Linked DNA regions of Homo sapiens: all the other regions are linked to region 4. The links come from fine-mapping of genetic effects on gene expression. A gene starts in region 4. Each other region holds a variant in brackets. All regions are shown on one strand. Distances are between the middles of the regions.

Region 1 (4,472 bases), 78 kb before region 4:
AATTTGCATCAAAACTTTTACAAAGATGTTTTGCTATTGTTTCTATATACTTCAAGAATGTTCATTTTTACAAATAAGTTGAACAAGACAGCCTAAGTTAGATGCACCGAAGTACTAGAAATATCGCTAGCCTCTGTTCTCCAGTTTAGCTTTCAAAACCAAATGAGCCATGTATAAAGGAGTTGAGAAACTTAATTTTTAAATGTTTCATTTGCAGAGTTTTATATCCATTAAGTGCCTTTGAAAGTTTCCAGTTGTGTGGGCTGCTGTCTCACCTCCCACCAATTTCTCCTTTCTCCATATGGTGCTAAAACCTCAAAGCTGAGGAGGGCTGCAGGACCCTTAGCAGATTCAGTGTGTCACCCTTGTCCTGTGTTCACGCCAAGGCTTCCTAAATGAAAGACATCGGTTACCTGCTTATGGGAAGGTGAGCAGCAAAGGAATTGAAGTTCGGGACAGGGTAGAATTATGGGTTTTCATTGTGTTTCATGCCAAACCCACAAAATCCAAAATAGAATTCAAGTTAAACAAACTTCTACTACAAAATGGAAGGGGAAAAAGGCTCAGGAAGGTCTATGAGAATGAGCTGACTTATCTCGTTAAATCTTAAGATAAATGAGGGTAACCCAAGGCTGCACCTTGGTGTACCACCCTGAGTGGAGTTGAGGTGACTTCATTTGATTGCTTCAGGCGAACTATATAGGTCAAGTCCAGATTATAAAAAAATTATCTGCAGAACAAATTGTAAACCCAAGGAATAGCTGGTAAATCAAAATTATAAAGTGAGTTAGAGTTCCTTGGAGTTGGTTGTATGACGGAATATGACTTGGACAATCTTTACCAGAAGCCATCCGTAAGCCCCTCAGTCACACTTTCCATGTAGCTGACCAGTGACTACAGGATGTGGCTGACAGTGCTCACTGAAAGGAGAGTTGGTGCGGGACTGGTGGTTCTGAGCACATAGACGCCTATTAGTCCTTCTGGTCAGTGAACGAAAATTCTAGACCTACAGTTACTGGCTACTTGCATTTGTCAGTTTAGAGAAAAGGTAAAATGAGGCATTTTCAATTGTAGAATAGACTAACATTTACCACAGAAGTGCTTCAGCATTCTAAATGGATTAGATCACTCATTAAGCTATTTTTATATGCCAATTTACTAATGCCTTACATCAATCCACTAATAGGTTGTTGGGCCCGCAGTAGAGTCCCTATGCAGTCCCAATTCTGTTTTCTGTAACCATGTGACTGGTGATGCAGAGTGATAACCATGTCTGCCTATCTTGTACTAGACTCTTCATGCTGATCGGATCTTGCATTGAAATAACCATGTGGAAGAACAATGAATCGATTAATGATGACATGTACAACCATATTTAAAGAGCAATAGTGTCCGTGTGTCATGAAAAACTTATTTGTAAACGTTTATATGGTATGATTTTGATTTTATGTATGTTCATAAATCCTGCACTGTATGATATATGTGAGTTAAAACATTGGTGCATGAATTTATTTTCAAAGTATAAAACACATCACTTAAACATTTTATGTGTCAAATAAAATTTGATTATGTAAACACATTTGTTGACTTTTGTTTCCACAGTAAACAAACAAACAGCTGCACCATCAGCTGAAAAAAACCCTTCTAAAAGCACAAGCTACCATTCGCTGGTTGAAGCAGTTTACCCACTGTGTGCATTTTTAATCTGCTGCAATTTCATGAAATGAAAATACCAAAGCATATTTTAAGTCTATAAGCTTTATTGATACTTTGCTTTTACAGTTCACAATGCATTCCACAGATTTAGTTCAGTACAGCTTAAACCACAATGGTATAAATCTTCATTTTGTAATTAATAATTTCTTGCATAACAATGTTTGATATTTGCAAACAAACAACATTTTTGGAAGCATTAGATTCAGTCCATAGATTCTGTGACAAAATTAACTACAGTCAGTCTGTGCAATGAAATTGATGTTGGAGTTCTATGTGTGTGGCATTTCATGTTGAAAACAGATGGTAGTGCTCCTAGAAATATTTCTTCTTCTAGCTTATGTGCTTTGGAACTACACATGTATAACCAATGACTGACTCTGAAATATCAAGCACTGTGGGGTGGCTGGAAGGTAAAGGTCTAAGCTTTGTGAAACACTATACATATATAATCTATATTTACTTATATTGGCAATTAATATAACAGTAAAAGTCACAATACACCTAGAACATACCAGAAAAGCAAGCTTTGTCATTCCTGCTTTACCGGTATGATCTCGTCTAAACAAACATTTCATTTCAGAAAATCTGCATCAATCTACACGGACCATACACAGTGCACAAACTGAAAAGGGCTTTTTTTTTTTTTTTTCTAGCTCCACCATCTCTGCAACTTGCCAAGATGCGGCAAGACTATCTGCAACAAAGTAAAATATACAGGTTTTTTATTCCACCAGTGCCT[CAGAT/C]AGATAGGAAAAAGATATGATTACGGTTTAAATCCATACATAGCAGCTTACAATACTTAAGATGATGAACACATGGCAGTCAAGACAGGTAATTTTTCCTCACAACAGTGCATGGCTAAAAATAAAGATCTAACAACGATCTGTGAAACTGCACTGCAACGTCAAGGTTCGTTCTTCCCTGACCCTCCCCCGTATAATCAAATGAATATCCCCTTTAAAGATGAACTCCTACTAATTATTTTGGGCGTTTTCATTCAGCTTTGCGCTTCAATCCAGGGATTTTTGCTTGGATTCTGAAAATGAAAAAGTCAATGTAAATATCAGTTTTGTTTGCTGCTGCTTAAAATACCATCTTCCAAGAACTACTTGTATGTTATTCAGCTAATACAATAAATGAAATCCTTAAAGCTGCCTAATTCTAAGCTATAATTTTGCCACCTTGGCCTCATGAATTAGATTTAAACAAAGCCTTAAACACATAATAAACCCAGAAACGAATGGTCCAAATGTTAGAAAAACAATCTTTTGGCAACTCTGAAGTCACACTTAAGGTCTGATAGAGATTTGTTACTCATTATGCCTGCAATATGAAAATACTGTTCTCACAATCCAGCACACCTTATCCTAGTAAAAACACTGCAGATTTTAAATACTTACTTAGCCATAGCATCTTTAACATTCTTATTTGCAAGTCCTAGATAATGATCTATCTGTGCCTGAAAGAGAGGTATAAAGGAATTATTACCGTTGCTAAAGAATCTTATTAACCACTACTATGTGTCAAGCTAAAGGCTTAAGAAACCATCACACTTCTCATTTTTGTAAGACATTGAAAATGGGCACTAATACATCCGTAAATCCCATGTAATAGAGTGAGTGCTCTATTCTGAAGTCAGCAGTTAGTTAGGAAATTACCTGATGCCGTTCATAAATAACAGGAACACTGAAGAGTGAAATGAGAGCTGAAAAGGGAAATATACAACTTTTCAAAAAGAACGGAATGATTTGGGAGGAATAAACACTCAAAAAACTATTAAACTGGCAACTCAAGATAACCAAGCAGTGTTCCTAATGAATGAATAAAAACATAAGGATCTCTGGATGCATCTGCTGTTGAGGAGCCACTCCAGAGGAATGAATGAACTGTGTGAGGCTGCAGTTATTAGAGCTAGGAACCATTTCTAGCTTCAAATCATATCACAGTGAGATTTCATAAAATAAAGGTATCCCTGGTTAGATTTATGACTGCACCATCATATAAAGCCACCCTTTATCTGGTTTATCACTGTTTGTTAGTAGGAGCTGTCTTCAGCAACTAAGGTAGCATTTCAATAAACCGGGAAGCAGTATCACCAACTTATTTAAAGAGAATACAACCTCAAACTTATTTTGAGATGGAGTTTCACTCTTGTTGCCCAACCTGGAGTGCAATGGCACGATCTCCGCTCACTGCAACCTCTGCCTCTTGGGCTCAAGTGATTCTCCTGCCTCAGCCTCCGGAGTAGCTGGGATTACAGGCGTGCGCCACCACGCCCAGCTAATTTTTTCTATTTTTAGTAGAAATGGGGTTTCACCATGTTAGCCAGGCTGGTCTCGAACTCCTGGCCCCAGGTGATCCGCCCACCTTGGCCTCCCAAAGTGCTGGGATTACAGGCATGAGCTACCGCGCCCGGCCCACATTTTCATCCCCTACTTTTCATACAATGAGAATATTCTCCACTAAAATGTCTAAGCTCCTGGCACACAATCTTTCCAGCAATTTTTCATCCCAATGGCTTTGTAGACTTACCCAAAATCAGTAGTGTCAGACCATTAAACAAGGCACCAACATAGGTAAATACCCACATCAACACTGCAAACTATAAGAAAATAACATTAGCCCATTATAAACAAAATTCAAGTAAAGTTTCTTAATTATGCTTTCAAAAGCATCCCATCTAAATGCCTACCTACAAAAGGCATACAACTTGAAGACTGGGTAAAGTACCATGAGCAGTTCACTATTAAGTCACG
Region 2 (4,472 bases), 50 kb before region 4:
CAGTCCTATCTGCAGTTTCTAGGGCATACGCTAGGGGTCTTAGAGTCTTACCCCTCAAGAATAAGGGGGAAACTACTGTACTGATACATGTTACAACCCAGATGAATCTTGAAAACATATGCTAAGTGAAAGAAGCCAGTCACAAAAGGCCATATATTTTATGATTCTGTTTATATGAAGTGCCTTGAATATGCAAGTTATGAATTCTGTAGAGACAGAAAGTAGATAAGTGATTGTCAGGGGCTGGGGAAAAAGGGAAGAGGAGTGACTGCTAGAGGGTGTGGGGGGCTTTTTTTGGGAGGGGGGTGAAGAAAATGTCCTGGAAATAGATTTAAAACTTTAAAAAAATAGTCATTTCAACATACTTCTCTACTAGGTTGTAAACTCCATAAAAGAACATGTATGTCTTACTACCTAACTTTATCCCCAGAGCTGAGCAGAAAGCCAAAAACAACTAAATTTTCAATATTACTGTTGACTGATTAGAATGAATGAATACCTTATGACAGGTCACTAATTCTAATTGATTTATTTAAAAAATGTTTCTACGCTTTAGACTTAACATTTATTTTATTTACACTATTTTCAGATGTCTACATTTATTAAATAACAAATAATGCTTTCAGGTAATTTATAAAAAAGAAAACACTGTTTTGCAGGCTTGTCTCCCCTTACTAGACCCTGGAAAACTGATAAATGCCTTTCATCTTTATATTCCCATTACCTACATCATTAATGCTTGCTGCACTGTCTGAATAGCGGCCAGATTATTTTTAGAACAGAAACATTTAAATTCATTTTCAAATTAAAATAAAGGACACCTTTCAATAAGAACTACAGGATCACCAAAATGCTAATTTTGGATTCCTCAGTAATCACTTTAGTGGTTCCTTATTTTTGAAAAACCAAAATTAAGACAAAGAGTTTATACAGGGAAAGTTTAACTTTTCTTGGTTCCTCAAGTCTCCTTCTATACTGCAGAATAAAGGGTTAATCATACAAGGTAACCCTATTCTGTGGCCTCAACCTTACTCATACAAAATGTTCATTAAACATCCTTTCAAAGATCTGAGATGAATTTAGCAGTACTTTTCCATTTACAACTTTGGGGGAATGCTTATGAATTGCTAAAAATAATGTTCATCAATTTTAACAAACCCTTGTAGTTTAGAAAAAAGTAATTTATGCCCTGCAGTCCTTGCCGTTTGTCTCCAAGATAAAAATGTGAAAAATGACTGTGTGTAATAGCATCTTTATCAAAATAAAATTTTAATTCAAAATAACTCAGTACACTTAAATCTTTTCTTTAAAATAAAAACTTCTGGCTCAATGCACAGTAAGAAGAGCTGCCTACATTTGGTAATCACAAACTGTCATCTGCCATAGCTAAAAATAGTGTCAGCCTGCATTGTGCATGCCTTACGTGCAGAAGTCATCCAATTACATTTTGCCTCAAATCAAATTCTTACATTCTTCTTTGAACAGCCCGAAGTCAGGTTTCAATTTTAAAAAGCTTTTGTCTGGGAAGGCGGGGCAGTGGGGAGTTAAACTGGCTGTTCCTAAAAATACTAGGACAGGGAATGGCTGGCAGAAAAATACCTACTTTTGAAGCAAAAGCAAATATTAAGTTCTCTTTAATAATGCCAGGTGAGGAATGAGAATGGCAGTTAAATAGGAAATAAACAAATGAATATATAAATATTAGAACGGTATTAAAATTTCAGTTGTTTTTCACAACCATGTTTATAATAATAAGTAATTATATATTTATTAAGAATCACAACCCTTAATCAAATTCTTCCCAAATGCCAGGAAAAGTAATTAGAATTCAGAATTGAACATTTAGTACTACGTAATAGTAAGCTTTTGTCTCAACACAGTAAGCATTCACCTGTCAAAAAACTGACAGGCGAAGGTCCACAAAAAGGATCTGTGCAGAGTTTAGCTCTCTTCACAAAGACATTAAGAGGACCTTAAGTCCTATTTCTTTTGAGTCCTATTTCTTCCTTCAGGTTAGTATCAATATGATCTGAGAAGATAATGTAATCTCTGTTTCCCTGTGTGTAAAATTAGAAAAATAATACCCACCCCTAAGAAATTATTTGAAGCTGAATTGAAATTTCACATATGGAAATGCTTGGTAAACTGAACACACTGGTACTAAAGCTCAAGAGATAAGGTCAAGAAAGGCAATCAAATATTATATGTAATGCTTAGCTAAGCCCTGATTTTTTAAAAAAGGTGAATTCAACTTTCTCTGAAAGTATAT[G/C]TAAAGAGGTTTCAATTAGCAAGTCTCAGCCTGATGGGTACCTGTTACTGCTACAAAAGTATCTCAACCAAATACCTGGCAAGCCAGCATCTGTCTTGGCTATCTCCTCTTCCTTTAACTAGAGTTTTTAAACAGATACGTGCAAAATTTCAGGTCCTTGTCTCTTCCACTAAATCTTTCCTGTCTTACTTTGATAACGTTACAGTGCTTTGGCGAATTTGAACCACCACACCTAAGAAAATAACACTTTACATGACAAACAAATAGCACTAATAAACAATCAGCAAAATTTCTATACTTCCCCTTTCTACAATAATTTTGTAATCTCCCAGTCTGAGCAAGGCACTGTGCTGAGTACATTGTATACATTACCTCGAATCCATAACAACTCTAAAAAGTATTATCTGCATTACATATGTGATGCAAATGTATTTGTACATTTGTAATGTAAACATATTGTTAAATAAATTGTGTAGGGTTACAAACTGAAATTCAAGTCTGACCATGAAGGTCTCACTCTATTATACCTTTTGTATTTAAAAGACTATATTAATACTCAAGTTTCTTTTTATGCTACTTGAGAATACCAAATGCTATTTCTACCTTAGTTTAAATAATTGAGACAGGAGACACAATTTACTAACACTACGAGTAGAGTTATAGGTGAGACCAATAAATTTCATTAAGAGATTCAATAATAGGAATAAACCATGTTTTGTTTAAATTGTTTTCTAGAAGCAATCTGAATTGTTCTCACCTTAAAAATAAATTTATACTATAAATAACAATCTATGTAATTACATATGAACTATAAAAATAGATAAAAAAGACATTGGTGAATTTAAGAATGATATTAAAATTTTTAAATAAGCAATAAACTTGACAAACACAGCATATAAAGCAACGAAAATACCATTTCTAGAAAATCTCCAGGAAACAGAAGCCAAACATAAAGATGTGAAGTTAAGTCAATGTTTACTATTCATTTTATTAAAAAACCAATCCTACACCCAGGATAGAACCTTATTATTATTACTGAGAACAAACGGCCTTTACAATTAAAATCGTTGTAAACACCGAGTGTGTTTTCACACACATACTCCTTTCCCCACATAACATGAACTAAAAGATGGTTTGTGATTTAAAAAATATGCGTCTCTAGCTCTCTAGTAACCAACACTATTTGAGGAGTACAAGATTCTCTTACCCAAGTTTAGTATTGTTAAATGGTCCCTGCAGTTATGAAGTTGCATAGGAAAGAAAATTTTCATAAATAAGAAAACATCCACTAAGTAATCTTCAAAATTAATCCAAGCTCATAAATATCCCTTACTGTTTAAATTCACCATCCAGCCTCACTCATTACCTAAATGTCTTGTCAGATAAAACCACCCAAATCAACAGTGCAAAATTGCAAATCTTCCTATTAACATGAAATTCCACAAAGTTAATGTTGTGAGTGATGCTGGAGAATTGCTCCAAAAAACACTGACAGTCCAACAGGCACTTCAAAACGGAGCCTCTCACTTCAAAAGATTAGGAAGAGCCCCCAGGAAAGTACATTTTTAAACCACTGAACATTTTTTGTAAAGGGACATTATATATGACCCACTGTGAAATTCAACCATAAAGCAAAAGAAGCCATTTTGTGCTAGTATACAATTTTGTGGCAAAAATTACATTCCCCTAAATCCCAAAAACCTGATTCATCCTCTATGTATTCTAAAACCTTATGCACGGCTGTGATTATAAACTAAATTATGTTAAGAATGAACTAAAATAAATTTATTTTCATAGTTATTGGTTTTTATGTGCCAAGATAAAGTCAATCAAATCTTATTTTATTTATTTATTTATTTATTTATTTAAGACAGTGTCTCCCTCTGTCACCCAGGCTGGAGCAGAGTGGCATCATCATAGCTCACTGCAGCCTCGACCTCCTGGGCTCAAGCAATCCTGCCACCTCAGCCTCCCAAGTAGCTGGGACCATAGGCGTGCACCACCACACCAAGCTAATTTTTTAAAATTTTGTAGAGGCAGGGCCTCCCTATGTTGCCCAGACTGGTCTCAAACTCCTGGGCTCAAGCAGTCCTCCCACTGTGGCCTCCCAAAGTGCTAGGATTACAGGCGTGAGCTACAAGGCCCAGCCAGTGGTCTTTTTTTCCTATATTTCAAGTAGAAAATGCCTCAAATATGTTGCAGG
Region 3 (4,414 bases), 31 kb before region 4:
AATATCAACTCTTAGTATCTACAGTACTTCAGTAAAAAAACTCAAAGGCTATATATACTTTTTCAGAAAAATATTTTAAGTCGTAAGAATATCAAAACAATTCTTATTCATGAACATATGTAAGTTCTTATTCATGAACATATATAAGTTTGCAAAGCTAATTTCGTACTATTTACCTAGACAAACAAGCCCTTTTAAAGTGAGTGATCATGGTAATACTACTTGGTGAATCCTGGGTATTACATAGTTTAATTATAATGAACAAATAATCAATGTATGGTCGGTTTACACTTCACTTACCAATAGTTCCAATTAGTTCAGCAAGACACAATCTATATTTCGATTACGAACTAAAAATATTCTCTGTGCATTAGTGACAAGCAACCAACAAACATATATTAAGTTATCATTAAGTCAAGATCTCAGCAGTTTGGACAGGAAACATGAGCACCTTTCTGTACCAATGGCCTACCAACATAAACAGATGATAGCAGTTGTCCAAAGTAGGGTTTTTCAGTCTCCACATACTAGCAACAGAATGTTACCCTAGTTCCAATATCCTTACATATGTGAGAAAATGTAGATGGCAACCAACTTTCTTGACATCTTAAGATGTCAAGAAATGTCTTACATTGCCTAATGGTTCAACACAACAGATATATGATAAAAGCAGTAGCACCTTGATTGCCTGCTAAAGTTAGGACAATAACTGCTTATTCCAAAACCAGGAAATAACTGTGAACGGACAAAACCTGAGTTGGAATCGCAGTTCATTCTTGTGAAACTAGGTAACAACTAATACAAATAAGAAGTTAGCCCAATGTCTGAAACACGGCAGAAGCTCAAAAACATTGTGCTTATTACATAATTTACCAGGTATCCTTGAAAAAGTTACTTAACATCCTTAGGCTTAGATTTTATCATCTATAAAATGGTTCCTTCTTTCAGATTATGGTGAAGACCTAAATGAAACAAATATGTGAGAGTGCTTGTTGGTCAGAAGATGTTCCATAAATGATAGTCTTCCCTTTCCAGATAAAATGAGAAGAATTCAGCTTTTCTCAACACTTTAAAATTCTCAGTTAAAAACCTAAAACTGGGAGAAAGAAAATCTAGAACTGAAACAAATGAAGCTAATTGTATTTCAAATGAATATCATAGCCATTAGTCAGTGGGAGAAGGACGCAGGAAAAAGAAAAAAGAACAAACTAATACAAGTAATCTGTGAATAATGTATTTGACTATATACATTCCATCTTAGGCAGGGTTGCAGAGTAGGGATTTGCAAACAATCCAGAACTCTTTTATCAAGTTTTTTTTTTATTATAGTGATATGAAAAAAGCATTCTAAAACTCTTATAGGTGTATTAAAGGACTGGATATAAATAATGTATTGGTGGTCTTAGGAACCAGGGTTCTCACTATAAAAGAAGAGACAAATATGAAATCAGGAAAGAAAGAACAAACCCTGTGAGAATGGATTAGAATTAGAGGTATCTATGTGAACTCATTTCTTAAGTATGTATGTGTATGTGTGTATGTTTATTTTTATGTATGTATATAAGCATTTCCTAGCTTTATCCACTGAAAGGGTTAAAATGGAAAGATCCCCACAGTAGCAATGACCACAACTAGCATCTAGCTCTTGATCTTTAATACCTCACTATTATGAAAATGACCTCTCATTCTACATTAAAAGGAATCAGGCATCCTTGGAGAAATGGCTGATTCCAGGGCTGGGACACGGTAAGCATAAAATAGGCCTACAATATTTTGTTAGGCTAGAAAGTAAGAAATGCTCCCCTCCCAACCCCAAAGAAAGAAGGTTGCATGTCCCTGAGCCTACCTGAAGGAACCCTCAAAATATGCAATAATTTACCACCAAAATAATAAAGTTCAGTAATGAATCATAAACCATTGGAAAGAAAATGGAAATTCACGGATCCATACTGATAATTAATTAGCTAATTAATTCATTAATGGAAATGGAGGTCTGCTGCTTAAACAGGAATGCTGAGGGTCAAATGAAAAATGTACGGGGAGTACTGGAGTTAAAATCATTTTTCAACTCTCATGGTAAAGACTGGATCAAGCAAGAATCATCAATGGTTTACTAAATTGGAGGGGCGAATTTTGATAGGGAGCAGGATATCTGCATGTGTTCAAGTGTCACTCCTCAGACTGCTTATCATCTGCAAGGGAGAAACAAAGACAATATAAGGAAATCAGAGCTCATCTTGCCCAGACGGTCAAAATTAACATAACCAGTGAGGGACTGATGAATAGCAGATAACTCTAGAAGTGGTGCTATGAGAGGGACACATCATCATCTATACAGTATCATAAATGAACCCATAGCCTCAAATTAATCACTAGGAAACATCGGACAAATCCACTAGGAGGAATGTTCTATTATAAAGTCGGGGGAAGAGAGGCCCTGTGTTCTTTAAAACTGCTAATGTCATAACAAATAAATAAAGACTGAAATGGGAAGTCCTACCCAGAGCAA[T/G]TGAGCAAGAGAGAAATAAAGGATATCCAAATTAGAAAAGAGGAAGTCACATTGTCCCTGTTTGCAGATGACATGATCTTATATAAAGAAAAACCTAAAGACTACCAAAAACTTGTAAATTCTGTAAAGTTGCAGGATATAAAATCAATAACAAAAATATCGCATGTCTTTACACAAACAACAAACTAGCTGAAAAAGAAATCAAGTAGGAAACTCCATTTGCAATAGCTTAAAAAAAAATACCTCAGAATAAGTTTAACCAAGGAGGTGAAAGACTTCTACGAGGAAATCTACAAAACAATGATGAAAGAAATTGAAGAGGATACAAACAAATGCAAAGAAAGACATTCCATGTTCATGAATCATAAGAGTTAACATTGTTAAAAAATGGCCGTAATATCCAAAGCAGTCTACAGATTCAATGCAATCCCTAATAAAATACCAATGACCTTCTTCACAGGAATAGGAAAAAAAATCCTAAAATCTGTATGGAACCACAAGACTCCAAAAAGCAAAAGCAATCCTGAACAAAAATAAAGCTGGCGGAATCACACTACTAAATTTCAAAATATACTACACAGCTATAGTAACCAAAACAGCATGGTACTGGCATAAAAACAGAAACACAGACCAATGGAACAGAACAGATAACCCAGAAATTAATTAACATATCTATAGCCAATCAATTTTTGGAAAAAAAAAAATGCCAAGAACATTCATTGGGGAAATGCCAAGAACATTCATTGATACTACTACTGAGAAAAAAAATCAGTATTTACATTCCAATAGTAAGAATATAGTTTGTCACAAATTTCTTTGTAAATGGAGGGGGAGGAAGACCAGAATTCATTAGTTTCTTGACAAACTTTACTTCCCAAAATTAATAAAGCACCATCTGCATCACAATACCTTATTCATCTCTCTTGCAAAATCAATCTTTCTTCCCAAAACTAAAACTGATTTCTGCCTACAAAATGTCATTTTAAGAAAACAAGAACAGGAAAGTCCTGGAGGCTCACACCTGTAATCCCAGCACTTTGGGAGGCAGAGGCGGGAGGATCCTTGAACACAGGAGTTTGAGACCAGCCTAGGCAACAAGGCAAGACCTCCTCTCTACAAAAATAATTAGCCAGGCATAGTGACACGAGCCTTTGGTCCCAGCTACTTGGGAGGCTGAGGACCACCTGACCCTGGGAGGTTGAGGCTGCAGTGAGCCATAATCTCACCACTGCACTTCAGCCTGGGCGACACAGCAAGAACCTGTCTCGAAAAAAGAAAAGAAGAACATATGAGATAATAAATGATCTGAGGAAATTAGTATTTTATTATTTAATAGTTTAAATGTTTAAATGCATATACATTAATAAGACCCAGAATTTTTTTAAAAACACACTTAAATATTTCATAATTAGAGATGGCATAAAACTTTTAAGTCATCTGAGAAGAGAGCTTCCCTTATGTTTTATCAGACCACTGCTGTATTTTGGTACATTTGACTTCAGTACACTTGAACCTCCCTTTCACGAAGATACACAGGTAAGTACCTATCCTCACTATAACATAGATCACAATGTTTAACTATGTCCTCAACAGTGTGTCTGTACCAGCTGGCTGTAAGTTGCATAAAGCGCAAAACTTTGTCTTAGTTTCATCTTTTTCCCTGCCCCCCCCGCCAAAAAAAAATCTCATATAGTGCCTGATAGAAGCATGTTAAAGCAACTCTTACCTGCTTTTACACTTTTTTTTTTTTTTGTCTTTTTTTTCTCCCTTTTTTGTGGAGAACGGAGTCTCACTATATTGCCCAGGCAGGTCTCGAACTCCTGGGCTCAAGCTATCCTCCCACCTCTCCCTCCCTGAAAGCTGGGATTACAGGCGTAAGCCATTGTGACTGGCCACTACTTACCT
Region 4 (4,472 bases):
CACTGGCCATGAACAGAGCTTGCCAGCCTGGAAGCTGCTGTGGACGTGAGTAGTGAGTGAATGTGAAGGCCTAGGACATTACCATGTACTACTGTACAACTTACAGACACTCTACGGTTAGGCTACACTAAATTTATCTTTAGATATATTTTTTCAATAATAAATCAACCTTAGCTTACTGTATCTTTTCTATTTTATAAACTTTTTGGCTCTTTTGTAATAACGTTTAACTTAAAACACAAACACATTTTAAAGCTATAGAAAAGAAATTTTATATTCTTATTCTATAAGCTTTTTTCTATTTTTTTTTTAACTTTTGTTAAAAACTAAGATACAAACGCATTACCCTAGGCCTACACAGGGTCAAGATCAAGACGTCGCTAGGCGGCAGGAATTTTTCAGCTCCATTACAACCTTATGGAGCCACCGTTGCAAATGCGGTCTGTCCTTGACCTAAACGTCGTTATGAGGCACGTGACCGTATTTTGATTCTGTAACCTAAAACATATCCTTCTGAAAAACAGTATTTCTAACCAATATATATGAAAATGTCTGTCTCAAAACATTTCTCTGTGTCTCATGGTAAATCTGCCACGAGTTCAATTAGCCAATTCCTGGCAAGGAATCCACAGGTTTTCCCTTCTTTAGGAATGTCAACCATTTTGCCTTTTATTTTTTTCTGTAAGATTCAATTATGATGCACTAAGAGGCTGGGCCAAGTCCACACTAACAGCAATTCCTCCGACCCTGCAGCTGAAACCCCGGCAGAACTACGCCCCCTCGAACACAATGCCTAGATCCCCTTTCCCTGGCTCGGTTTAGCTGGTGGGGAGCAGTCCACATCACACCCCGGGGAGCTGGGCGGTGGCAGGACTTTACCAGAACTCTCTCCTTCCCATTTCTCCACGCACCACACCACTGGAGGCGCTCTCCCTTCACTGCGGTTGGGTCAATGTGGACGTTTTCCACTCGGCCAGCTCCCCACGAGCACAGGAGGAGGGGGAGGGGAAGCGCAAAGGGGCCACCCACGCCAGCCAGGAGGTGAGGAGGGAGCCCGGGGCAGAATGCAGGCCAACAGACCCGCAGCAAAACTGCACCTTTTCCAAAGGAGCAACCCAGACGGGTAGACAAAAGCACCTCCTAAAAATATCTGGGTGCCAAGGCCTTTCCTTCCTCACCTCGAAGCCCAACCAACCCGATAAATCCACAACCCTGGCTCTCGGGTATATACCCGGCTCCTACTACGGGTGGGTGCCTAACTTCCGAGAATCCGTACGCTGGGCATCACACAGGGTGAAAGTGGGAGCCGGGAGCGGTGCACGTGTTCCCCGAAACCAAGACGGACAATAAGAACAAACCCGGGCTCCAAGGGCCGCCCCACCCTTCTCCCCGCGCTTCCAACCAGACGGGGCGCCATCGCCCCGAAGTCCGCAGACAAAGCGCCCTCGGGGCGGAGAGGAGGGACCAGCCCAAAGCATCTGGGGCTGCACACAAAAGAGGGAGGGGCGCGAGGGGCGGCGCGAAGCGAGAGGTCGCGGCACTCACCCACTGAGCCCGAGGAGCCCCTGCGCTTGGGCGCGGCCGGGGTGGAGGGGGGCGCGGCGGGAGCCGGGGCTGGCGGGGTCCACACGGGCTCTGCCTGGGGGCTCACGCTGGCCGGGGGAGGAGGGGGAGGCCGGGCCGGAGGCTCGTCGTCCTCAGGGAGCTTGGAGGGCGAGACTGCGGCAGCAGACAGCGGGGATGGCGCGGGCACGGTCGACGACACCGGGCTCGGGTCCCAAGACGGCTGCCGCTCCGGGGCGACGGGGGGAGCGGCCGGCAGGGGTCCCCGGGGCGCCGGCGGCACGAAGTCATTTCCGAAGTCCATCAGGGGCGCGCCGGCGGCAGGGGCGGTGGGCACTGGGGCCGCGGACAGCCCGGCGGCGGGCTTCCTCTCCAGCACCTCCAGCTCCTCCAGGTCTTCGTCCTCGTCCTCCTCTTCCTCCTCCTCTTCTTCCTCCTCGTCCTCGGGCTCCCTCACGAACTGGTACTTGAACGCGGGCTGCGGCCGGGGTGGGCTGTCCGAGGACGAGACCAGAGGAGACTGGTCCAGGTCTTCCATGGCTGGAGGGTGGAGATGATGCTGCAGCTGCTGCCGCCGCCGCCGGGGCCGCGTCTCAGAGCCGCGGGCGGTTGTGGGGGTTGGGGAGGACTGAGAGGGGCTGGGCCGACTGAGCCGAGGGACCTACTGTGGTGACGGCTCCCGGAACAATGAGACTGCTCCTCCTGCCTCCGCGCCGGTGATGCGCCACCCGCCCTGTCCCCACTTGCCGCCGCCGCCCAGATGAGCTAGGAGTGAGGCCAGCGGACTCTCCGCCCAGTTTGGCGTGACTCACCCTCCCCAGGGGAGGGCAGGGACTGGCGCGGGAGGGAGAGAGCCAATCGGCTACAGGATCGAGAAGATAGGCGACCAGCCGGGCCAACAGAAAGGGAAGGAGATGAAAGTGGGTGGGGACTACGGCACTTCCTCTCTCTTACCGGCTGGGATTGCGTTCAATGGGCGGGGCTGAGAGCTGGGAGCTCCACCCCCACTTTGGGTAACCGTGAGTTGGGGTGGGGTCTTGGCCTTGCCCGCAGCTGGCGTCCGTATGTCGTTAGAGCACTGGGAAAGGGGGCGGGCTGCTGGCTGGGAGGGGTCGGCGCGGTTTCTGGCGCGCCACCGGAAGGGCGTTATCCTGGGGGAACTGAGAGTGGAAACTTTCCTCCCGGGAAAGGAAGAAACCCGACTGGAGAAAGGTATTAGCGGGACTGGGAAGTGGGCCCTAAGGATTTTTAAAGATTTTTGAAATAAAAGATTATTTGTTCACTCAAAGTTCCAAACTACATCACTACTACTACCACCCTAAAATAAGAAAAAAATTGTTTTTTGACAGTTAGGCTCACTCAGTCTAAACCGCAGCCCCCGAAATTGGGAGGAAAACAGCTGTGCTGAATTAACTAGGGATCTGGGGCCGACCATTTGAAAGTCTGCTCTTCTTCCAAAGAGAGTTTGGGGCCTTGCCTGCTGGACTCTTACATGGTAAGAGAGTGAGTCACCCAAAGAGAGAGGCAGCGGGGAGACAGGAAAGTGGAAATACAAAGATGCCTTGGAAAGCTAATTTGGTTCACGTTACATTTCAGTCACCTTAGGTTCATGAGTCAACATTTCGGATGATTCAGGCTTTCTGGGAGTCAGGAAGCCCCATAGTCATTGGTTTGATATGCAGGAATAAGCATGATCCCCATTCCACTTTTTATGAGGCTGGAGAGTTTAAAGAGAGTAGTTGCAGAACATCTTTGTAAGAATCAGGATCCTTTTATCTTTCTGATTTACCTTTCAAAAATATTCACTGCATGCCTACTCTGGAGGCCCTGGAGAGAAGAGGATAACCTGCTTTCAAGTTGCTCAAAGTCTAAATCTGTGCTGTACCTGACAGGTACTGGCTACTTGTGGCTACTGATTGAACACTCGGAATGTATGTAGCTAGGCTGAAATTAGATGTGCTGTAAGTGTAAAATGCGCACTGGATTTCAAGAATTAGTACCTCCGAAATGTAAAATATCTCAGCTTTCCTGTTGACTGAATGTTGAAATTGATATTTTGGATATATTGGGATAAGTATAATATTATTAAATTAATTTTACTTGTTCCTTTTAAAGCAGCTTCTAGAGTTTTTTAAATACATAATGGCTCACATTATATTTCTTTTGGACAGTGCTAGTCTAGATTAATAATTAAGAAAGTTTGATTGCCATGGGGAATCACTGGCAAATTCTTAGCTCCAACTAATTTATATTACTGTGGCTTAATTTGGGTATTAAAAAAGAAAAGTAAGAGTTGGAGGGAGGGATAAATAGGTGGAACACAGAAGATTTTGGGGGCAGTGAAACTGTTCTGTATTATCCTGTAATGGTGGATACATAACATTATGCATTTGACAAAACCCACAGGACTATACAACAGAAAGAGTGAACCCTAATGTAGACTATTGACTTTAGTTAATGATATATCAATATCAGTTCATCAGTTGTAACAAATGTACCACCTCAATGCGTTATGTTAATAATAATAGAGGAAACTGTGGTTAGGGGGCAGGAGTGAGAGTGTATGGGAACTCTGTACTTCCTGTTCAACTTTTCTGTAAACCTAAAACTGCTCTAAGAAATAAAGTTTATGAACCTTTAAAAAAGGAAAAGAATAAAGATTTCCTGGCAATGTTACTTGATTGGGTTAATTATCAACAATATATTCAAGACCTATCACATTAATTCCACGGAGAACTGGCTTTATTTGTGCAAAACGTTTGTGACTTGCTTTGAGTTTGGTGTTATTTTTTGGAGGGGTTGGGAAGAGTAGGAAGAGAGATGTATTGATGTAGAATTTTGGGGCGGGAAGTTAATGCCAAATGAATTTAAACAAAACAAATTTCTACAATGGTGACTACAAGAGACAT
Region 5 (4,472 bases), 41 kb after region 4:
CTGGTTTGAGGCCACCCTCCTGAATGTGACTTGTCTACTTCTACAGTTCTTTCTAGGCACATCCCGTTTTGGTCAGCCCAGCCACTTTCCGGCATGATCTGCCAGGTAATTAACGGATTTATCAATTACGGAAAAATCTGTCTCCTTGTCTGGATGTACTTAAAATTCAGCGTTTAAGGGACAGAGACGTCCTGCTCCAACTAAGTGAATGTTGTCAACTGCATGTCTAGTGCTTTAGCTATTTCTGTTTCTAGTCGTCATTTCCCAAATCTGCGAAATGCAAACACTTGAGATACAAGCCCACCTCCAAAGCAAGGCCATTCTACAAATTGCCTTCTTCTGGCCACCACTCTTCAGCACAGCACTGTGGTCCTTGTGCCTGGGGAGGAGGTCTTATTCCTCTCCTTGTCACTGGCCTCTCCAGGCATGTGGTAAAAAGGTCCCCCTGGGACACCTGGGGCATGGAACATTTTCCCCATTACTGAGATCACTGACTGACAGCAGCAACTAGACTGACTCCCCTCCCCTGGTCCCCACCCCAAGCAGCTGTCTGAATGTTAGAATAGGCACGAGGAATTGTTAAAGTTGAGAAAGGCTTACTTTTCATGAAGAACACATGTTTTCTAAGGAGAGATTTATTTAATGAAAGTCTTTTTTTTCTCCTGAGTCTTTGGTAGATTTGAATTGTAAAATAGATCTGGGGCTGTTTTGAGTAGGATGGGGCTGTTTTGAGTGGAAGGATAGGGCTGGAGTGGAGACAGCTGAATTCCTCTACCTGGAGAAGTCCAGTATCTGCGAATAGGAGGTATGATAAGGCCATAGAACTATCCCCAAATGTCCCCTAGGTAGAGTGGCCCAAGACAGTTTAAAACAGAGAGACCCAATATTCCACTTAATATAATTTGGGTTACAGTATTACCTTCACACTATTTCCAAACACACACGCTCACATCTGCTTCCAGCAAATCTTTAATGCAGTTCCCTGCACACTCAATATCTTGACTGCGTATGGACATAGAGAAAGTGGCTGAATTTCCTCTCTGAGAAGAGGACGTCATGGAGGAAGAAGAGATAGTCCCTAAACGGAGCCAATTCAACCAAAGCAGAAGCTGGAGCTACAGAAGGCAATGAGAATGAAGTCTCCACCTCCCCTCTATCCACCTGGAAGTTTCGCCAAAATCATCTCAAGAGCTTGAGAATTCCATGAAATATGGAGTAGGGCTTTGGACCCATTCTAAAGGACAAGGAGGACTACAGCTGATGGTTCCCAAAGACCTGTCTTCCGCACTGACCCAGGGTCCAATTGCTCATACAATTTCTCCTCTTAGATATCTAATAAGTAACTCCCATTTAAAATGGCCAAAAACCAAACTCGGCTCCACCCCCTAAACATGCTTCTCCCTCAGTCTTTTCCACCTCAGTTACCAGCCCCACATCCACTCAGTTGCTCAAGCCCCAAATCTACGAGTCATCCTTGGTTCTGCTTTCTCTCATTCTCTCTATCCAGGAGATCAGCAGGCCTTGTCAGTCCCTCCTCCAAGACACATCCCAAGTTGACATTTTTCAACTTCTCTGCACATCTCCATTGATTCCACCCAAGAAGTCTCAGCCACCAGTCCTCAACTGAACTCCCAGTTTTGCTCAACTGGCTAGAGCAAAAACCTCCCTAACCAGTTGCCCTGTCTTTCCTCTGGCCACCAGTGGCCTTTTCACTACCTGGTGGTAGCAGCCAGAAAGGGGTGTGTCTGTGTATAAATCGGACAGTATGGCTCCACCATTTACAATCATTCATGGCTTCCCATTGCAATCCAA[A/G]TTCCTCTCTGTGGCCTAGGGGGCCCCACGTGATTGGGCCGTGTTTACCACTCTGACCTCTTTCTTCCTCCATTCATAGGGTGTCATCCACACTGGGCCCTTTCTTCCCACATACACATAAAGCTTCTTGCCTCAGAGCCTCCGTACATGCTATTTTTCTGCCTGGAATGCTTTTCCCTTAAATTTTCACCTGTCTGCCCCAATCCCTAAACTTCTAGCCCCTGCTCACTCTCTACCCTTTATCTTATTTTCCTGTAACACTTACTTGTTGCTTGATTACAAATTTTTCATCTTCCTGTCCTCATTAGAATGTAAGCTCAGGCCAGCTGCAGTAGCTTGTACCTAGAATCCCAGTACTGTGGGAGGCCGAGGCAGGAGGATTGCTTGAGCCCAGGAGTTTGGGACCTGCCTGGGCAATATAGCAGGATACTGTCTCTCCAAAAAGAAAACTTTTTTTAATTAGCCAGTGTATTAGTCTGTTTTCATGCTGCTGATAAAGACATACCCAAAACTAGGAAGAAAAAGAGGTTTAGTTGGACTTACAGTTCCACATGGCTGGGGAGGCCTCAGAATCATGGCAGGAGGTAAAAGGCATTTCTTACATGGCAGCGGCAAGAGAAAAATAAAAAAGATGCAAAAGCGGAAACCCCTGATAAATCCATCAGCTCTCGTGAGACTTACTCACTATCACGAGAACAGCACAGGCAAGACTGGCCCCCATGATTCAATTACCTCCCCCTGGGTCCCTCCCACAACATGTGGGAATTCTGGGAGACACAATTCAAGTTGAGATTTGGGTGGGGACACAGCCAAACCATGCCAGGCTTGGTGGCACATGCCTGTAGTCTCAGCTACCTGGGAGGTTGAGGTGGGAAGATTGCTTGAGTCCAGGAGTTTGAGGCTGCAGTGAGCTGAGATGGCACCACTGCACTCCAGCCTGGGTGACAGAGTGAGACCATGACTTAAAAAAAAAAAAGGAAGCTCAATGAAGGGAGAGATTTTTTTTTCTTTTCTTTTTTTTTTTTTCGAGTTGGAGTTTCCCTCTTGTTGCCCAGGCTGGAGTGTAATGGCATGATCTCAGCTCACCGTAACCTCCACCTCCTGGGTTCAAGCAATTCTCCTGCCTCAGCCTCCCTAGTAGCTGGGATTACAGGCATTCACCACCACCCCTGGCTAATTTTGTATTTTTAGTAGAGACAGGGTTTCTCCATGTTGTCAGCCTGGTCTCAAACTCCCAACCTCAGGTGATCTGCCCACCTCGGCCTCCTAAAGTGCTGGGATTACAGGCGTGAGCCACCGTGCCCGGCCCGAAGGAAGAGATTTTTTATCTCCAGCTCCTAGAACACTACCTGGCAGAAAAAAGTGCTCAACACAAACTTGTGGAATGAGTATACCTGAGTTTCACTTGTTTCCTGCTTGCCCTCTGTCAGAGGCCACACCCAATTGTGGCACCTGGTAAAAGCCTCACTCATTAGAGTTTTGTCATTTAACTCCTTCCTGTAAGCCAGGTAAAACTGACCACATATATATGTAGATGCCCTTTTCCAATTTCAGTTTGGGGGCTCCCCTGGAGAAAGCAGAGGCCTCACACTAGAGCTAGAAGCGGCCCCAGGAAAATTCACATGGGGTGAAGTTTTATTCTTTCAAAGTAGCCAGTTTTGCCCCTTCGCATTTTCTTCTTCTTCACAGACATTTTCCCAATGGGTAAAACTTTTTTGTTTGATTTTAAAAATTCACTTTTTCACTTATCTATTCAGTGTTGCTTACTGAGTTCTGACCACTAATAAAAATAACCATTGTGTGTGTGTCTATGTGTGTGTGTACGTGTGTAAAATATCAGAAGATAAGAGCCTTGCATTGTTCTAAGAGCTGCTTGAAAATGTCTGTGTTTTGATAGCTTATGATGCACATTCGTGGGCCAGCCAATTATAGTGACAGCTCTTTAATGAAGAAATGTCATACACATTAATATAGAATTTGTATTTGCTCTTAGTAATACCTGTAAGTGCCTAGTTCAACAGTTTTTGTGGTTGAAATGCTAAAAAATACAACTGAAATGCTGTTGAACTCTAAATGGCTAAATGCATGTATACCTGTATGTTGTTTTATTTACAAACACATAAACATATGTGTGTATTTTATACTTAAATAATTTATTCTATATATATTTAATTTATTTTATATATATATAGAATAAATTAAGCAATAATGTCCCTGGGCCCAAAGAAAGTATTCTTCATTCTCCTGTTACGCCAGAAAGGTGTTTATTATGCTGAGGGAAGTTCTTGCACTCATAACCTCTAAGTGATTCCGCAGCATAGCTTAGAGGTGATGCTTCTTCCGGAGGAAGCCCTGAGTCATTATCTGCATCTTTCCTGAGATCTGGAGAGTACAAGGGTACCAACACCTCTCCCTCCACGAGGCCAGGGGGGATTAGGAAAGAGTCAGAGATGAAGGAGAAAAGGAGAAGAGAAATTGGTAAGAGGAAAAAGGGTAAATGTCTCAATTGTTTCCTCCTCTGATTACAGCCAGAGGAAGGCAGTCTGAGGGCCCCTTAACTAACTCCCTGTTAAGGTCTGGCAAGGATATAATGCATTTCATTTAGCTATGCTTCTGTTACTTGAATGGTTTGCTTTTTCTAAGGGAAATAGAATTGGGAA
Region 6 (4,472 bases), 95 kb before region 4:
TGTCAGCAATTATTGGGAGAGGGAGTGGGTGGGTTGCTTACATCCATCCCTTCTTGTTGATGTTGCTGTTGATTTTTTGAGTCCTGAGTGTATCTGTGTCACCTGCGTTGACACATCCAGTGACTGTGATTCTGAGGGACCATAAAGTCTGACCAGCGCCTGAGAGTCCAAATAAACGTTGGCCCCCATCCCTGTGGACTTGTAAGAATAGTTTTTCAGACCCCAAGTGTCAAGAACTCCGTGTCTTTTGAAGCTGGTTATTGTGCTTGGCCAGGGTAGGTTTCAGTAAGTGTGCCTGGACCCCCTGTGCCCTGGGAAACTGCCGGTGACAAATGTGAACTGATTCACATTTATGAGAAGTTTGTTTTCACTTAGTCATCTCGAGCAATTTTTACAACTTCCTGCTTGTTTTCATTGAATCATGTCCATTTTTAAGTTTAATTTGGAACTTTCTGATGCTGGTGTTGAGTGCTTCACTGTTGGAAACGTGACTTATTTTAGCTATTGTTTTCCCTTGACGCTTCCTCATTGCCATTGCTCACCCAATGCAGGTGATATTACGGAAACCCCAGGTAAGGCTGTTCCATCCGTGAGTAGTTTGAATCTGCAGAGCAAAATCATGTCATTCTATCATGTTTGCTGATTGTATCTTGCCGAATTGCAGATACAAATCATTGACCTCACCAGTTTCCTTCGTATAAAATCCTCTGCAAGTGTGTGTGTGTTGAACATAAATGTCCGTAGGGCTCTGCCTTTAAAAGCAAATTTCCTCTAGTCTTTCTCCTCTGGCCAGGTCAGGCTATAGGTCTCTTATGCCCAATGACTGTAACAGCCCTAAACATTTGTCTTAAAAAAGGCTTTTGCAGGCCGGGCGGCAGTGGCTCACATTTGTAATCCCAGCACTTTGGGAGGCGGGCGGATCACCTGAGGTCAGGAGTTTGAGACCAGCCTGGCCAACATGGTGAAATGCTGTCTCTGCTGAAAATACAAAAATTAGCTGGGTGTGGTGGTGCGTGCCTGTAATCCCAGCTACTCGGGAGGCTGAGGCACGAGGATCGTGTGAACCCAGGACGTGGAGGTTGCGGTGAGCTGAGCTGGTGCCACTGCACTCTGGCCTGGGCAACAGAGCAAGACTCTGTCTAAAAAAAAAAAAAAAAAGGCTTTTACATGAACATAAGCATCGCCTTGGCTCTGCCATTTGTCAGCCTTACTTCTTTGTCATGCCTCTCCACACTCAGGGACAACACCTTCCATCCACATATGGGACGCCATGACCAAACACACCCTCTCCATGCTGCGGTGCTTCCACTCCAAGGGGGTGAATTACATCAACTTCAGTGCAACTGGAAAGCTCCTGGTGTCGGTGGGAGTGGACCCTGAGCACACCATCACTGTCTGGCGATGGCAGGAAGGTAAACCAGCACTGGGCTTTCTGTCCCTCCAGGGTGTCTGCCTGTGGGTGTCGAGCCTGTGGGCTCGAACCCAGATCTGCCTCACTCCGAAGCCTGCCGTAGGCACTGACTGCTGCTGGGCAAGTGGAAAACAGGGCACTGGGGATCCTGGTATAGCTGCCCCACTGATGCCAGTGCATCCCAGGGTCCCAGGGCCAGGAGGAGGCTGGCCAGGGACTCCAGGGCCCATTAGTGAAGGGGCTCTGAGGAGGTTCCCCGATGTTGGCAGCCCTCCTCCTCGGAAGGCAGCAGCCTCCCCGACATCTGTCTTAGCCACCTTCCTACCCAAGGGTCCTTGTCTTCCGTGCTCTTTCTGATGGCCCCTGGATCCTACTACAGCCCTATCACTTTGTCTGCTTTATTTTAGGAAATGGGATCATGTTTTATCATAGTCTCAGAAACATTTAAATTTTTTTTTTAACATTTTAACACTTTTGAAATAGGGATTTATCTTACAATCCAGGTTTACATTTACTGTAACAGGATTTCTTTCTAGTCCTCCCCCAATACATGCACACACACCTCACACACATGCACACACACAAGCTGCAACTGAATGTGTGGTCATCTTAGAACTAAAGATGTGCAGTCCTCCTCATATATTCTCAGGTTGGGTACTGCCCTGGCAAGAGCAGATCCAATTAGTCAGAACATTAATGAGGTCTGTCTGCAGCTAGGCAGCCTGTATCTGGGACACGC[T/C]CTACCAGGCAAGCGCAGAGGTGTCACTTCTCCCATCCAGGGCTCTGGAGTCCCATTATCTCTGCATCTTCCCATGGAGGGGGTGGTGCGTGGAGGTTGTAAAGAGATCAGCACACTGGGGGAAAGTTCCAGTCACTCCTGAGCACCCCCATATGAGGAAAAGAGCCTGACAGCTTGCAGACATTTGTAATGATACCATATTCCTTCAGAAGGTGACATGATCTATAATGTTTCTAGGAAACCACATGTTCTCATTCTCTGGTTCACCAGTATATCTCACCCAGATGGCTGCACAGTCAGTATCCCAGGGGTGCAGATTCATTCCTTGTGATGTCAAGTGGCCAACTGATTGACCAGACTCAGCCCAGAGAAATTGAGCATCTTAAATGATAGACAGAGAGCATCTTGGAGTGGGAAGAACTAGAGAAGACTTCCTGCAGTTAGGACCCATCCTAAGGAGAAATTCCTTCAAATGCACCCCTTTGTCCTTTCAAGGGGTGTGGCTTTCAAGGACCCCTTGAATACTTTCAAGGATGTGGCTCTCCTCACTTCACAAGGCAGCCCACACGCTGTCAGAAAGCTCTTGCGTAAAGCCCCTTCTTATGTGGGGACAGAAATTGCTTCATTATATGTTTCTTCTGTGCTGCTAACTGTTCCTAGATCCTTGGAAGAAAGCTCTCACACTGGCCCCACTGCACGGCCTTGTCTTTTTAGGTTCAGGCTCACTGTCTTCACTCCCTCTACCTGTCCTCCAAGCAGTGCCTGCTTTGGCCTGCCCTAGCACAGACTCTTGCTCACCCAGGGTCCCTTCTGACCTCCCAGGGGAAGGTTAGAGGAGCCAGGGCTTTTAAACAAGCTCCCGAGGAAAAGAGGAGCCTGCTCTTGTTTGTACAGAGGGTTGTGAGCCAGTGCTGATATGTGACCTATCGCTAGCCACCACCTCTTCCGGGTTGACCACGGACATGTCATTTCTCCTCCCTTCCTTCTCCAGTGTGGGTTTGCCTTCATTTCAAGTCTTACTTACAGATAAATAGCATGTGTTTGGGGAGGTTTACATACATTTTATGTATCACTAGAGAGCCTATTATTCATTCTTCATTTATTAGAGGATTGTTTTGGGGAACGTGTGTGTGTGTGTGTGTAGGTAAAAATAAAATAGACCTAAAAATGAGCTTATTACATAAAATCCATGTCGTCAGGTCCTAGGTATATGTGTAATTTGCTCTGAGCAGACTAGAAGCCAATGCAGAGAGGGATACAGGTGTCTCCACAATTAGAAGCGTCCATGAAATTAAAACAAGGAAAATATAAACAGTGGCTTTGAAAAAATGTGCAACTCATTGTTTGTTTGCACTTCTCCCATGACTGGTGAGCTGGAATCTCTTTCCTTTGTTTGCACTTCTCCCATGACTGGTGAGCTGGAATCTCTTTCCATCTCATTGGCCACTTGTATTGGCTGCTTTTGTAATCTACCTGTTCAAATCCTTTTACTACTTGGAGTGGGAGGGTTGTCTTTTACTTATAATTTGTAGTTCCTTATAGATCTCTAATGTTAATCCTCTGAATCTTATAAGCATTGCAAGTGCTTTCTTCCCGTATGTTGTGTTACTTTGTTTATGGTATCCTTGGAGACTGTGGGTCTTAAAACCTCTGAGCCCTAAGTAGAGAGAGATCTGCTACAGTAAGTCAGAGATTCCATATGCAGAGAGAATTACAGCTGGGAGAAGTTCTCTGTGGGTCCCCCTAGCCTCGCCTGGAAAGAGATTCTGTTAGGGAGTATCAGAGGGGTGGCCACAGGCCCAGCTACATCAAAACCCACCACCATCATGGTACTAGAAAGCTGTCATAAAAACAAATGCGAAGTGATGAGAACGAAGAAGAAAAAAATAGGTGTGTGAATAATCAAGGGAGGGGTGACAAGAAATCGGAACAAAAACATTCAGAGTAAGTTAAAGGGTAACAGGTTTAAAACAAAAATTTAAAACTCGAGAGCTTAAAAATAATGAGATTAAAAAAGAGGTGAGTTTAAAATACAGGCTAAAAGAATAGAAGCCAAGAAATTTTAAAAGTAGCTAAAGGAGTGATGATAATACTATTACTACTACTACTAATACTGGCTAACACATGATCACTCAGAGTATCAAGCACTGTGCTCAGGGCTTCACTTACTTCAATTCTTTTTATCTGCACTGCACCTTCTGAAATAGGAACAATTATTAGCCCCATCTTACAGGTAAGGAAACTAAAGCACAGAGAGCTTAAATAATTTGTCTAAAGTTGTTCTACAAGTAAATGGTAGAGTTGGAATTTTATTAAGACAAA
Region 7 (4,472 bases), 39 kb before region 4:
TACCACTTTCTTTTAAAGAAAAAAAGGTAGATTTAACCATCTACATAATAAAATATTCTTTAAATATTCTAGTCAACATTTTACCATTTACAGGCTTAAATTCTTACACAATGATCCACTGAGATTTGAAAGGATCTGGGCTTTCAAGGGGGAGGAAAAGGGATCAAAATCACTGATTGGTTATTACAAGGACAAAGGTTAGTGACTTAAATATAGACATGCATTTAAAATTACTGCGTAATTATACTGTGTAATTTGAATGATTTCAAGATGCACATAATCTGATTAAAAGAAAGTTGGTAATAATTTTAAAGGTTCAAATCAGATTTTCAAAGAAGAGGCTTACTGCAAACACAATATCTTGCTACCTACAAACCTTTGCACAGAATTTCAACTACACCAAGTAAGGTTTTTTAAAATAGTCACGGAAAATATGTCACTGTGAAACACAAAAACAGCAATGTGTATTTACCACATCCAAGTGACGAACAAATGAAATCTGTTAGATCTATATTGTTTACAATGTGCAAGATTAGAGAACAGAACCTAAACGGCAGGACTGAAAAGACTAAACCGAATGCCAGTGAAACAGAACAGCATGACATTTTCTGGTATACAACCAAATGTAAAAACACGTGAGATAGCCGTTTTAATCCTTTAGACTTCAACTCTTCAGAGGTTTCACTTTCAATCCAAAATATCTAAATTCCAAAGCTTATTCATAGAAATATATTAGTGGTCACATATAAAAACTGAATAAGAAATTAAAAAGCAGATATACCCTTGTCCTTCCAATTTTTCTTCTGACCGTCCATCTCTTGTCACGATCTGCTTTGCAGCTCCAATTATTAATTATGCATACCAACAGAAAAGCTGTAACTGCACAAACCTACTCCCTGAGACATGAAATACCCGTTTCCTCAACCGAAGTCTGCAGTCTCCTCTGCTGCACAACTGCAGCAGGACTGAAGTCACCTGACGTCTTCTGGGTGTGGAACAGTCTGACGCAGTGCAATCTGTAACTAGGCTACTAATACTCCAGCATTAATGCTTTCCTTCTATCTGTTGATTGTTTTAGGCATTTGCCTTGTTGCTCATACCAAATGGAGCTGCATTTGCAGGGAGAGGGCAGGCTACCAAAAGAAAGGAAATAAGGGTTGTTCTTAGAACTAACCACTGAATGTATCTGAAATGCAATTAAAGCCATATGCAGTTTTTTTTTCTTTCTTTTTTTAACAGATGGTCGAATTATGCTACTGGTTTTCAGTTTCATTTAAAACTCTAAAATTAATGGTTACCTAATAAGATAAAAATGGACTGATCAAATATTAATAGCCTAAATTTCAAGCTTGTGAAATGATGAGTCTCCTTAATTGCTCCTAAGTTCATTAAGACGTAAAACATTCAGCATTTTGCACCTTATGAAGAGATAAACAGAAAATAAAAGTCAAATTACTAATGTTTATTGAACATATTATTTGAACAGAAAACTTTAGCAACTTAATCTTCCTAATATCTTTTTTCCTCTTTTACAATTATGGAAATCCAGAGACTTACAAACATACACTTACTCTTAATCATCATCTGCTCCAACTCAATCTTTGAATATTTATTAGACACCTCTACAGACAGTATTAATAGATTCTTAGCTTGGGGAGATATATTCATGGGCTAATGATATAATCTGCCATGGGAAAATGACATAAAAGCAAACTATAATTTTATTTTATTTTTTATTTTTTTCTGACACAGGGTCTCGCTCTGTCACCAAGGCTGGAGTGCAGTGGTGCAATCATTGGTCACATGGCAACCTCAACCTCCCAGGCTCAAGAGATCCTCCCATCTCAGTCACCACAGGCATGTGCCACCATGCCCAGTTAATTTTTTATTTTTACACTTTTTTTAGAGATGAGGTCTCCCTGTGTTGTCCAAGCTGGTCACAAACTCCTGGGCTCAAGCAATTCTCCCACCTCAGCCTCCTAAAGTGCGGGGATTACAGGTATGAGCCACCACACCTGGCCTAAAATTTTACTGAAAAATATAAAAACAAATCTATGTACAGCATTTTTAAAATCTGTGTTCAACTTTATAAAACTGATTTTCATTCCAATGCAGTGTCTCTACTTATGTTCCACAATCAATTCACCTGATACTTATATCTGCCTAAGCAGAAAAGGCACTAACAAATCAGCTAAAATATTTTAAAATGCAATTTGCGAAAATACTATAAGATACGTAGCCTATGTACAAAAATACATACTTAAGACTGTATAGCTAAAATGAAATAGAGATAATATTTTCTGGAACCTGCTATCTGTGGGCTGCAAAATCCTTAATATCAGAAGTGGCTTGATATTAATATATACTCCTATTATGTACCCAAAAAAACTAAAAACAAAACATGTAAGA[C/G]TTAAACATAGAAAGAACTAAAATTAGGAAAATGAGAGGGGAAAAAGGAAGTGGCTTGAATATCAATGACACATTTATTTCCCTATCTGCCTCTCTAACTCCAAACATAAATAAAGAAAAGTAATTTTTAAAAGAGCCCAGTATTCTCAGCTCGAGTTAATATTTAACTTTAAACTTTATTCACTGAACCCCTGCATAATGTGATATTTGAGAACCCGGTCAGCAAGCCATATCATGGCCTGAAAATGTCTGGCCTCTCCACGCAACATTCAGAATCTCAAACTATTTAGTAAATACAAAATACTGACTTTCTAATAACAAGTCCCTTAAAACTGAAAGCCAATAAATAACGAGCATTAGAATAAAACACTCAACTATAGTACTCAAACACTATTTTCAAGTCAGAGATTACTTCACTAGTAGAAGAAAAAAGTTTTACTGTGATCAAGTTACTCGGCACTTAAGACTACTTGTATCTTCCGTGGTACTTGATTTGGCTTAACAATTAAAGAAAAAAGTCTGAGAGGGGCAAGAATGTGTAATAAGACATACCCACTCATCTAAACATTAAACATACTTAATAGCACCCCTGACAGATTAAAAAGTCAAAATAGGAGCCCTGAAGTTTAGTAAACATTTCAGCCTACATAGTGACATCTACTTCTTTAATTTTTATGGTCTTTGTAAGTGTACAAGGAAAACTAGCTTGTGGAAATCAACTGACATTTTGCCCAGTTCTTTCTCACAAAGTTTTTCAACTAGACTTGTTTTAAGTTTGGCAAGTTAAGCAAAAAAGTGCTTAAATCTGAAAAACTGATATGACACAAATTTGTTAAAGATGTAAAGCCAGATGGGCTATGTTTATTATGAAAATCATATAATCTCTACTAAAAATAGAAGGCTTTAGGACATTGCCTGACAAAAAGTAGGCACTATGTAAGTGCTATTTACTTATCAGTATGCTAAAAATAACAATCAAACTAAGAAGCAACAAGACAAGTAAGGCACATCTAAGAAAGCTCATATATTAAGTCCTTCAACTCTAGGCAATAACCCAATCTTTCTAAACAGAATTGCCCCCTCTCATACACAAACTATTGTCGTTGCTGTATAGTTCTATTATTTTCCAGCTGAGAAAAATGTACATCTGCATAGTTTATAGGTCCTATTCCACAATGAACCCCAACTTAACAAGTCAAATAAAGAAAGGACATAAATCTGTTAAAAACTTATCTTCATTTATTTTGTTTTCCTTCAACTACCTAACTTTTAAAAAAATTAATTCTTTTGAGGACAATTTTCAAGTAGAGCACATGTCTCAACTTGCAGAATGGCATTTTGACTATTTGAGACAGGAACCTCTTTTCCCATAAAAGCAAAGGCTCACAAAGGAGAGGCCACAGAAAACTCCTTTATTTATACTGCAAGCCAATAAAAGTGTTGTATGAATTCTAAGCCCTATTTCATATTGTGTGTTTGTGGAGGGGAGAAGAGGGGAAAAGTATTCTCCTTTTCCTGAACTCAAAATCAGCTTTATACAGAACTTTTGAAATAAACTGTTCAAAGTTCATATTTGGCAATTTCCCACTCCTCAATGTCCATGTCCCCAGTATCCCCTTCTCCCAAGCATGACAAAAAAATCAAAGATGAAAACTTGCCCAAATACATATCCATAATGTCTTTCCTTTGCATCTTATGAAGGGATAAGCTCTAAAGGGTAATATGCTGTAAAATTACCTACACGGTTTCTTTTCTCACATCTCAGACCAAACCCTCGTTTCCTTCATGCACTTACCTGTTAAGTAGGAAATACGCATAAATCAATTCCTACTAAACAAGAAACTCTTTTATGACCTCAGAAACTGTGTGTATGTTTTTTGGTGGGTTTTTTTTTGGGGGGGGGGGAGGGTGTAGGGGGGGTGGTATCTAACTGGCAAGATTTCAGACAGTAGAAAGTTATATTTTAGATTTTAGAACAGGCAGCACTAGGCAAGGTGTTAAGTCCACCCCAGCCAGCTCTTATTCTAAGACATTCTTCCTTTTCCATTTCTTTCTTTCCTCTA

Evidence for each region. PIP is the estimated chance that this variant, and not a neighbour inherited with it, causes the effect.
Region 1: its variant is fine-mapped to the expression of RTN4 in lung (TOPMed, PIP above 0.99).
Region 2: its variant is fine-mapped to the expression of RTN4 in whole blood (INTERVAL, PIP above 0.99).
Region 3: its variant is fine-mapped to the expression of RTN4 in whole blood (TOPMed, PIP above 0.99).
Region 5: its variant is fine-mapped to the expression of RTN4 in whole blood (TOPMed, PIP above 0.99).
Region 6: its variant is fine-mapped to the expression of RTN4 in nasal epithelium (TOPMed, PIP 0.98).
Region 7: its variant is fine-mapped to the expression of RTN4 in whole blood (TOPMed, PIP above 0.99).

What each region holds. Positions count from the first base shown.
Region 1 is chr2:54,970,447-54,974,918 of GRCh38, forward strand. EML6 (EMAP like 6) reads left to right here. Exons shown (of 42, transcript NM_001039753.4): 42 at 1-1,579. It overlaps RTN4 (reticulon 4), which reads right to left. Exons shown (of 9, transcript NM_020532.5): 6 at 4,249-4,318; 7 at 3,375-3,421; 8 at 3,117-3,175; 9 at 1,743-2,752. The coding sequence ends at 2,710. Among named protein-coding and RNA genes, the nearest start is that of RTN4, 78 kb to the right of the region's middle. RefSeq lists a silencer at 4,016-4,217. The variant CAGAT/C (reference allele first, on the strand shown) is at 2,456.
Region 2 is chr2:54,997,941-55,002,412 of GRCh38, forward strand. All of the region lies in intron 3 of RTN4 (reticulon 4), which reads right to left. Among named protein-coding and RNA genes, the nearest start is that of RTN4, 50 kb to the right of the region's middle. The variant G/C (reference allele first, on the strand shown) is at 2,270.
Region 3 is chr2:55,017,220-55,021,633 of GRCh38, forward strand. The region is part of intron 3 of RTN4 (reticulon 4); the gene reads right to left. Among named protein-coding and RNA genes, the nearest start is that of RTN4, 31 kb to the right of the region's middle. The variant T/G (reference allele first, on the strand shown) is at 2,510.
Region 4 is chr2:55,048,200-55,052,671 of GRCh38, forward strand. It overlaps RTN4 (reticulon 4), which reads right to left and starts at 2,252. Exons shown (of 9, transcript NM_020532.5): 1 at 1,546-2,252. The coding sequence starts at 2,101. RefSeq lists enhancers at 1,258-2,070, 2,033-2,082 and silencers at 1,573-1,692, 1,833-1,892.
Region 5 is chr2:55,089,414-55,093,885 of GRCh38, forward strand. It overlaps a transcript of RTN4 not described here. Among named protein-coding and RNA genes, the nearest start is that of RTN4, 41 kb to the left of the region's middle. The variant A/G (reference allele first, on the strand shown) is at 1,813.
Region 6 is chr2:54,952,745-54,957,216 of GRCh38, forward strand. EML6 (EMAP like 6) reads left to right here. Exons shown (of 42, transcript NM_001039753.4): 32 at 1,239-1,412. Among named protein-coding and RNA genes, the nearest start is that of RTN4, 95 kb to the right of the region's middle. The variant T/C (reference allele first, on the strand shown) is at 2,151.
Region 7 is chr2:55,009,306-55,013,777 of GRCh38, forward strand. The region is part of intron 3 of RTN4 (reticulon 4); the gene reads right to left. Among named protein-coding and RNA genes, the nearest start is that of RTN4, 39 kb to the right of the region's middle. RefSeq lists a silencer at 1,774-1,833. The variant C/G (reference allele first, on the strand shown) is at 2,410.